Linked DNA regions of Homo sapiens. The protein of the gene in region 1 interacts with the protein of each later gene in a biochemical or structural test. Each region holds a gene or a part of one and is shown on either strand. Other genes may lie near its edges.

Region 1 (4,252 bases):
ATTATTTTTAGAAACATCCAAATATGTGAGCTGTTTCAAACTACCAATAAACTATAAGTAAAAAAAGAAAATCTAATGACTCTATTAACATTAGTAATTTGTAAAAAGTTTAGGGAATAAACTTGATACCAAGTTTTAATTCAAAATTAAATGCTAATACAAGAAAGAAGACTCCCAGGTAGTTTTTTAAATGCCATTAGAAATGTATTCAGTAATATAGCTAAGATGTTCTACTAATTGTAGCATAGCAGAAGTGACAAAGGACATATTCTTTGGGAATTCAGGTATCCATTACCTCCTAAGGAAATAGCATATATGGGGATTCTTGTGGTTTTTTTTATGGGAGTAAACAATTTGTCAGTTGTTAAAACAGAAAGTTCGGCTGGGCGCGGTGGCTCACGCCTGTAATCCCAGCACTTTGGTAGGCCGAGGCAGGCGGATAATGAGGTCAGGAGATCGAGACCATCCTGGCTAACACGGTGAAATCCCGTCTCCACTAAAAAATAAAAAAAAATTAGCTGGGCATGGTGGTGGTCACCTGTAGTCCCAGCTACTCAGGAGGCTGAGGCAGGAGAATGGTGTGAACCCAGGAGGCGGAGCTCGCAGTGAGCCGAGATCGCACCACTGCACTCCAGCCTGGGCAACAGAGCGAGACTCTGTCTCAAAAAAAAAAAAAAAAAAAATTCAGAAAGTTCATGAAAAATATCCTAGTTTACCAATTCCTTGGGCAAAGCAAATTGGGACGTAAGTTCAAGTGATACCATTGGAAAGGACACACTCAACAGTATTAAAAGGAGACATACAAATGTTTATTATGAGAATTCTTAGATTATAATCAAGAATGTGCTCATGAAAAAAAGTAATTTGCTTCTGTTTAATAAAGAATAATTCAATTTTTTTATTAATTAAAAGTAATTATAAAAGGTACAATTCACAAAACTGCAAAGGAGAGCCAGAAATAAGTGATGCCATTTAAAATCTCATATACATACCCCTGGAATAAAAGTCAGTCTATTAGCATCCATCCAAAACTCTTTCAATCCACTTAGTTGCTCAAGTACTTCAGGCTGTTGGGATTAGGGTAGGGGATAGCAGTAATTCAATTAATTTTTATGAATGTCTTTATCTGGCAAAAGAAGCCCTGGGAATTTCTAATAACCTTTAGTTTCAAATCATTAAATAAAAGGAGCAGGGAGAAGGAAAAATAAAAAAGAAGAGCCAGGATGTAAGCCTTTCTACTGCATTATAGTTACTACAGTAAAATTATTATAGAAAATTATTAATGGAGAAATCAAAGAGACATGCCATAGCAGTAGATTACAAAAAACACATTTAAGCTTTGGATTACACAACAGGGGCAAGTTTTTATATAATTTGTAAAGAAATAAAAAATAGGACTCACTGCTTAGAAGTATACAATAAAAATATGCACTCATGCATTATCAGTAAGAAGATACAGCTTTTAGAAAACAGAAAAATTACAAATGTTCCCTGGTGACATTCATTAAGAAGGAGATAAAAGACAACGTGCATCCTAAATGTCCATAATCAGGGAAAGGTAAATAGACAAAGTCATAACTACATGATACAAATATACTGTAATTTAAACCTCTAGTAAAAACTTCTAATTACATGGTAGAAAATTCTTTATAATATGGTGTTGAGGACATCAAAATTAATCCAAGTGTTGTGGCAGACCTTCATATCCAGGCAAAATTTGCTCCTGGGCATTGTCCCTTCAAGTCTGCCCTCTTCAAAGTTATTTCTATCACCTCACAAAGCCATCTGCAATCAATGATCATGTGATGGCACAGAGTACTATCACATCTAATGACCATAGTTAACAGTCATATATAAAAGGCATGCCAATCAGATTTACTGTTAACATATAAATATAGATAAGAATCCCAGATGTAACTTGGATTAAAAGAAATTTCCTTTTGTGCATTACTGTTAAATTCTACTGTAAGTTTTAAAAAGTGTATAATGTTGGAAGACCAAAATGGTACAAAAACTAATGACGATTTTGAAAGCTTGTTGGATTCTTAAAATGAACGAGATTTTTGAAATAGTTAATACGGAAACGGATTCATACAGAACAAATATTGAGAAAGGACGTAACAGATAAATAATTTGGGAAGCACAGCATGTATTTTAGAGAATGAGGTACTCCAAAGTACCATGTTCCTCCTCAAACCTCAGCTGAAATTTATAATATTAATATAATACCCACAGGGCAATACTATAGCAAGCAGTTTTGAGAAATTCCTAGGCTTAAAACCATCATTTGAGAGCTACCACACTTTTAAACAACAAACTTGTAAACTAATTTAAAAGTTTAATAATGATACTCAGCTGGATGAGTTCCTCTTCAAAAAAAAAAAAATCTAGCTTATTTTCTGAGTTCTTTTGGAAAACTCACTAAAGACAAAAGCTACTTAAACACTACTCCTTTCCTTTTAGAGTCAGCTTCATAGCGCACTTGGCATACAAAGCACAAACAAAAAGGTTCTCATTACCACTTCAAAAATAACAGTTGTTTCACTCAATGATTTTCCCCTTAGCTATTAAGTAACATTATAGAGAAGTATCTTATTACTGAATAAGTTAACAAGCAATACCCCATGGAGCTCTCTCTGATTCAGAACTACTTTTACCTGCTGCATTCCAGACTGATGTTTCCCACTTATAATCACTCAAATTTTCTGCTTCCTATGCTAAAAATTGTTTAGTATCTCTTCCATGGACCTCTCATTGATTTTACATTTTATGCTCACTTGTGGTCAGAAGTTCATCTGTCTGGTTAATTTTTCTATCTGTCTGGAAAGTTCTGGCTAAGAAATTTCATATCTTGTAACTAAGAAAAAAAAGTAAACCTTTATCCAATTTGTAAGAGAAATACATTAATTTTCATATTTTGTTCTTCATTAAATATAAGAACTTAGGGAAAGTGAGACTGATGAGAACTTACCACTTCCGTGAATTCGTTACTTCCCAAATCCAGTCTTTCCAGCTGGGTCAGTCTATTCATAGTTCTGTTCATAATGGAGTAATGAAAAATTAACTAGAAAAATATCAATTACATGGAAGCTTTCAAAACAGTCTAAAACATTCTTATGGAATAGGTAATTATTTATGGGCTTTCACATGTTGACAAAATAAAAATATTAATTTTCTAAAAAATTTTAAAAGTCAGATTTCTAGATAAAATAATTATCAGTTATTATCTTATTTTGCCTTCTCATTGGTCTTTTCATTTCTATTTTTAAGAAGCAATTGCAATAAATTTAAACCCACAAGCCAGAATACAAATAATGAGTTTCTATTTTTTCACATAATGAATTTTCATATAGTACAAGTCAGCTAATAAATGTTGGCAGATGTATAATAATTACTACCATAATTACAAAAATTCTTTTTCAAAACTGCTCATATATTTGTAAGACTTTAAGATAACTGTAACTCCGAAAATTAATATTCAAAATGCTAACAGTACGTTGTATTACTCCCCACATGTTCAAATTAAATACAATACAATTCAAAATAAAGTTTTATATGAATCACAAATTAGTAGTTGACATTTATTTTAAATAAAAGCAATAATATACTATTCTTAACTTCCAACTTAACATCAACACTTCTCTGAAATTACAGGAACTTGAAAGATGTACAAACCAGTTTGTAATGAAATAAACTATGTTGCACTTCTATCTTTTCTCTCTCCTTTTACAAAGGTACCCTTTGAAACTAATTCAAACAAATATTTACACTCTTAAGTGGCTATTTTTGTACAACACCTATTATTTAATACATTGAGATGTAACCAGTTACCCAGATAAGAAATTCTGTATTAAGGATTTTGTAGGATATGACAAAATGAGAGCAAAATATAGTTATAATCACAATATCAGTATATTACATTAATATGTTAATACTTTGAAAATGAGTATCATTTAAAATCCACAGGCACTTCAAATTACGGCACGAAAAACACAGACTATTTCTATCTTCTCTGGAATTTTAACAAAAATTAGTAATAAGTAAAATAAAACTCAGTTGCAACATTTCTCCAGCTTTTTAGTCAAAAATATAAAAACAAACACCATCATTGTAATGAAACTGTCATTGGTCTACATTAGAAGCGAATTTTCCCTTTACATTTTAAATATGCCATTCTGTCATCAACTCTTCAATTCATCTCATAATGCCAATTTTTATAAAACTGCTTTCACCTAGATTTACTAAGTGCCTA
Region 2 (3,792 bases), on another chromosome or scaffold:
GTAGAGCTTGACGTGCACGCACAAAAACATGCTGTACCCGAAGGCAATGACGAAGCCCAGGGCCTCCCACAGGCGGTAATTGGCGAAGGCAGCTTCCTTGCTCTTCTCAAACAGAACGCCGTAGAGAGCTGCAGAGGAGAGAGCGGAGTGAGAGCTCTGCCATGGGCCCCACAGTGACCCTGTTTGTGAAAAGAGCACAGCTTTCCCACTGCCCCATTTTCTCAACTAAATCAAGACATTTTTCTTTTTTCACAACAGAATGATTTTACATGCCAGATGATAGCATGAACCCCGAAAACCTGAGGCAGGTCTCAGTTAACTTAGAATGTTTATTTTGCCCAGGTTGAGGACCGGTGCCCGTGACACAGCCTCAGGAGGTCCTGACGAGATGTGCCCAAGGTGGTCAGAACACACTGTAGATTTATACACTCTAGGGAGACATGAGACATCAATCAACATACGTAAGATGAACATTGGTTTGGTTAAGATGAGCATTGGTTTTGTCCAGAAAGGCAAGACAACTCCAAGCAAAGGTAGGAAGACTGGAAGCAGGGAGGGGGCTTCCGGGTCACGGGTAGATAAGAGACAAATGGTGGCATTCTTTTGAGTTTCTGATTAGCCTCTTCAAAGGAAACAATCAGATCTGCATTTCTCTCAGTGAGCAGAGGGGTGACTTTGAATAGAACGGGAGGCACGTTGGTGCTAAGCAGTTCCCAGCTAGACTTTTCCCTTTAGCTTAGGGATTTTGGAGCCCCAGGATTTTCCTGCTTGTGATTTAAACACAGGGCTCCTTTTGGGGCTCCACCCAGGCTGCTGGCCACAGAGACCCAGGAAAACCCTCCACAGCCTGAGGCGAAGTAGGCAGGTGGGGGGCAGGGACAGGAGCAGGGACAGTGGCAGCCTGAGCCCCGGTGAGGCAGGGTGTGCGGTGACCTTAACTGCAGGCAGCAGGGCCTGAAACCAGGGGCAGAAGCATGTGGTTCCCCAGGAGGATTCCAGACTGCCAGCCATGGGGTCCTTGAGGCAGGGAGGATGGCATTTAATTTTGTAAACTCCATGGCACCTGGTTCAGCGCAAGACACACAGGAGTGTGGAAAGAACCGTCTTGCCGAAGATTCGCTCTGCCCACCCCTCCCTTAGTGCTGGAGACAATGCCGTGTGTGGGGAGGCCCAGCACTAAATGTGTTAATGAGTTTTATACGAAACAACTCACATCATGAATGCTCCCTCTACTGCTGAAGACCAACGCAGATGCGCTTACAGCAGGGGAGTGCCCTGCTAGAGCCCTAAGATTCACACTGTCAACAGCTCATGGATGTTTGGGAAACAAGAAGCTCTTTGGAAGCCTCAGGACAAGGCACCCTTCTTGTCCCACAGTCTGCACATTGTCCACCTTAATAAAAGTAATGACCAAAGAGAACTGAATAACCAAATTTTGATTTAGTTGGCTTCTGAGACTATTCTAAACACCTCTTGTCTGTTTTTTGATGGTGACTGTTAGCATGGGATCCAAAACCAAGGTTCTAGGGAAGAAAATCCAAGTTGAGACACCATGGCTATAAGTGGTAGATCATGCCATGTTCTGTGGCTAAAAGCTCCCGGCTACACCCTGGGCAGGTCGGAAAACCAGAGCCAATGGACCCAGATTATAAATATTCTAGTAATACAGGCAACTCTAATTTTAAGCTAACTTTTTGGGAATATGGGTTGCTGTCATTCAAGAATTTCAAGATGAAATTTATATTGTGCTGCCGTGATTAGAAATCGTTGTCCTCCAAGAAAGGGACTCACTCCACTCCCCCAGCCCCCCCACCATCTCCCTTCGTCAAGTTCTGGTTGGTCCAAGGCCAATTCAGCTTCTTCATAAGTAGCCATGTTCTCCTCGGCCCTCTGAGTTTTTCCATAAACATAAACTTTCCGGGCCCTCAATGCCTCACATGTCACATGAAGAACTTGACATTCTCTGACTCTGGTTCCAAAATCTGGACCTAGTGAGGAGATCTACAACAAAGAGAGAAAGAGCTAGACTGTCTTCTAGCTCACATACTTGTGTTCAAAATCACCTAGATGTGTTTGGGAGACAGTAGGTTCCCCAGCATGGAGGACTTGGGGACCCAGAAGGTGGCTGGAAAGTGGGCTGTCCCCTGGCCACAAAACAGAATGGAGGAGGCCAAAGAAGACAGGTGTGGCCCCAGACAGAGGTGACACCCTCACTCCTGCCTGTCTGCTAATCCAGCTCTACCCACAGAAGCAGGGTCCACACCCACAGAGGGAGACGCCTAGGACCCAGATGAAGCCGCTGGAACTGCCTTTAAGAAACACGGAGGAAGAATCAGGGGAAACCGTTTGTCCCACTCGGGAAAGGGGAAGCCACACGTGTGGATGACATCAGCCCAGTCTAGGGGAGGAGAGGCCAATGCCAGTGATAATTAAACTCAGGCTTTTCAGGGAATTACTCAAGATTTGGTTCCTATTTTAATCCAAACATAAAGAAAGCAATGCATTTATTGTTTTGAATTGCATGGAACTACCCACAGCTAAGGACATAGTGGGGAAAGACATTTTTTAAAAAGGAAAGTAGACTGAAAATGGTATTTCAACAATTCTGAAATGACTGTACACATGTAAAAGATTGAACACATAAGGAAGCAGTCATACCTAGTGGGAACCAGGCTTCTGGCTGCCGGAGAATGGAGCGACAGCTACGCAGTGGGGGCTAGAATAAGCCCCGTGTCTTACCACCTTAATAAAGAAATAATGTGGTGTTGGATGGTGACCCAAAGTGTAGAGTAAATATACGAGCCCATGCTGATGCAGATCAATGATTGAGTAATAAATACATCGGGGAGAAGGGACAGGCGTTTTTTATGGAAGAATTACAGAGTACACATAGACATTCCTCAGGGTGGAGATTAGCTGCTGTCTTCTTGACTGCTGGCTCCCTGGGCACTCGCTCCCGCAGAACCGCGTGTGGAAAGGGAAGGCAGTGGGTTTGCAGTGGAGAGATGTGGCCGGCACCACGGAGCCAACGGGATCAAGGTTAACATCGCTGGTGAGGAGGCCTGTCCCTGTCCTGTATCCCCCATATGACGGGACAAGAAAGTGCCTCACCAGGGAGCTGTCCTCCGCAAACCCACAGCCCCAGCCTAATCATGAGAAAACAGCAAACAAACCAAAATTAAGGAACAGCCTACAGACTACGGTGCTCTTCAAAAGGGTCCAGGTCATGAAAAACAAGGAAAATGAAAAGCTGTCACAGAGCAGCCAGAAGATACGATGACTGAGTCCAACAGGGAATCCAGGACAGGATCCTGGCACAGAAAAAAGAACCCTCGTGGGAAGCCTGGAGGAACCCAAATAAAGGCTGTCCCCCCACTAACTGTCACATGGCAGCGTTACTTCCTAGCTGTACGAATGTGCCGTGGCTCTGTGAGATGCTCAGCATTTGGGGAAGCTGGCACAGGGCCTACGGGGTAAATGCATTGGATCTATAGGTTGGTACCTTTCAAGGGGACTCTCTGTACTACATTTGCAACTTTTCTGTAAATCTAAAACTATTTCAAAATAAAAGCTGTATTTAGAAAGACAAAGCATTGCTCTCAGCCTGGCCTGTCTGCCTCCTCTTCCCAGGTGGCCCAGGGTTAAAGAGACCAGGATGTGGATGAGAAGTCCAGCAATCTTGTTTAGTCAGAGAAGACAGGTTAAGTGAATAGGGCACTGAAGAAGTGAGATTTTCTGAGTTTATCACCCTGAAAACAGCCAACAGAGCAAAAGAGTATTTTTAGACTAGAC

What was found. The genes of interacting proteins can lie anywhere in the genome.
Region 2: the proteins of ERBIN (region 1) and UNC93A interact in a test that uses a peptide from one of them, tested with the Homo sapiens proteins (one large-scale study listed by IntAct).

The regions. Positions count from the first base shown.
Region 1 is NC_000005.10:66,020,105-66,024,356, reverse strand, and holds part of ERBIN (erbin), read right to left. Parts: intron 3,036-4,252; coding exon 2,972-3,035; intron 1,068-2,971; coding exon 993-1,067; intron 52-992; coding exon 1-51. UniProt on the Homo sapiens protein: Acts as an adapter for the receptor ERBB2, in epithelia. By binding the unphosphorylated 'Tyr-1248' of receptor ERBB2, it may contribute to stabilize this unphosphorylated state.
Region 2 is NC_000006.12:167,311,523-167,315,314, reverse strand, and holds part of UNC93A (protein unc-93 homolog A), read right to left. Parts: intron 129-3,792; coding exon 1-128.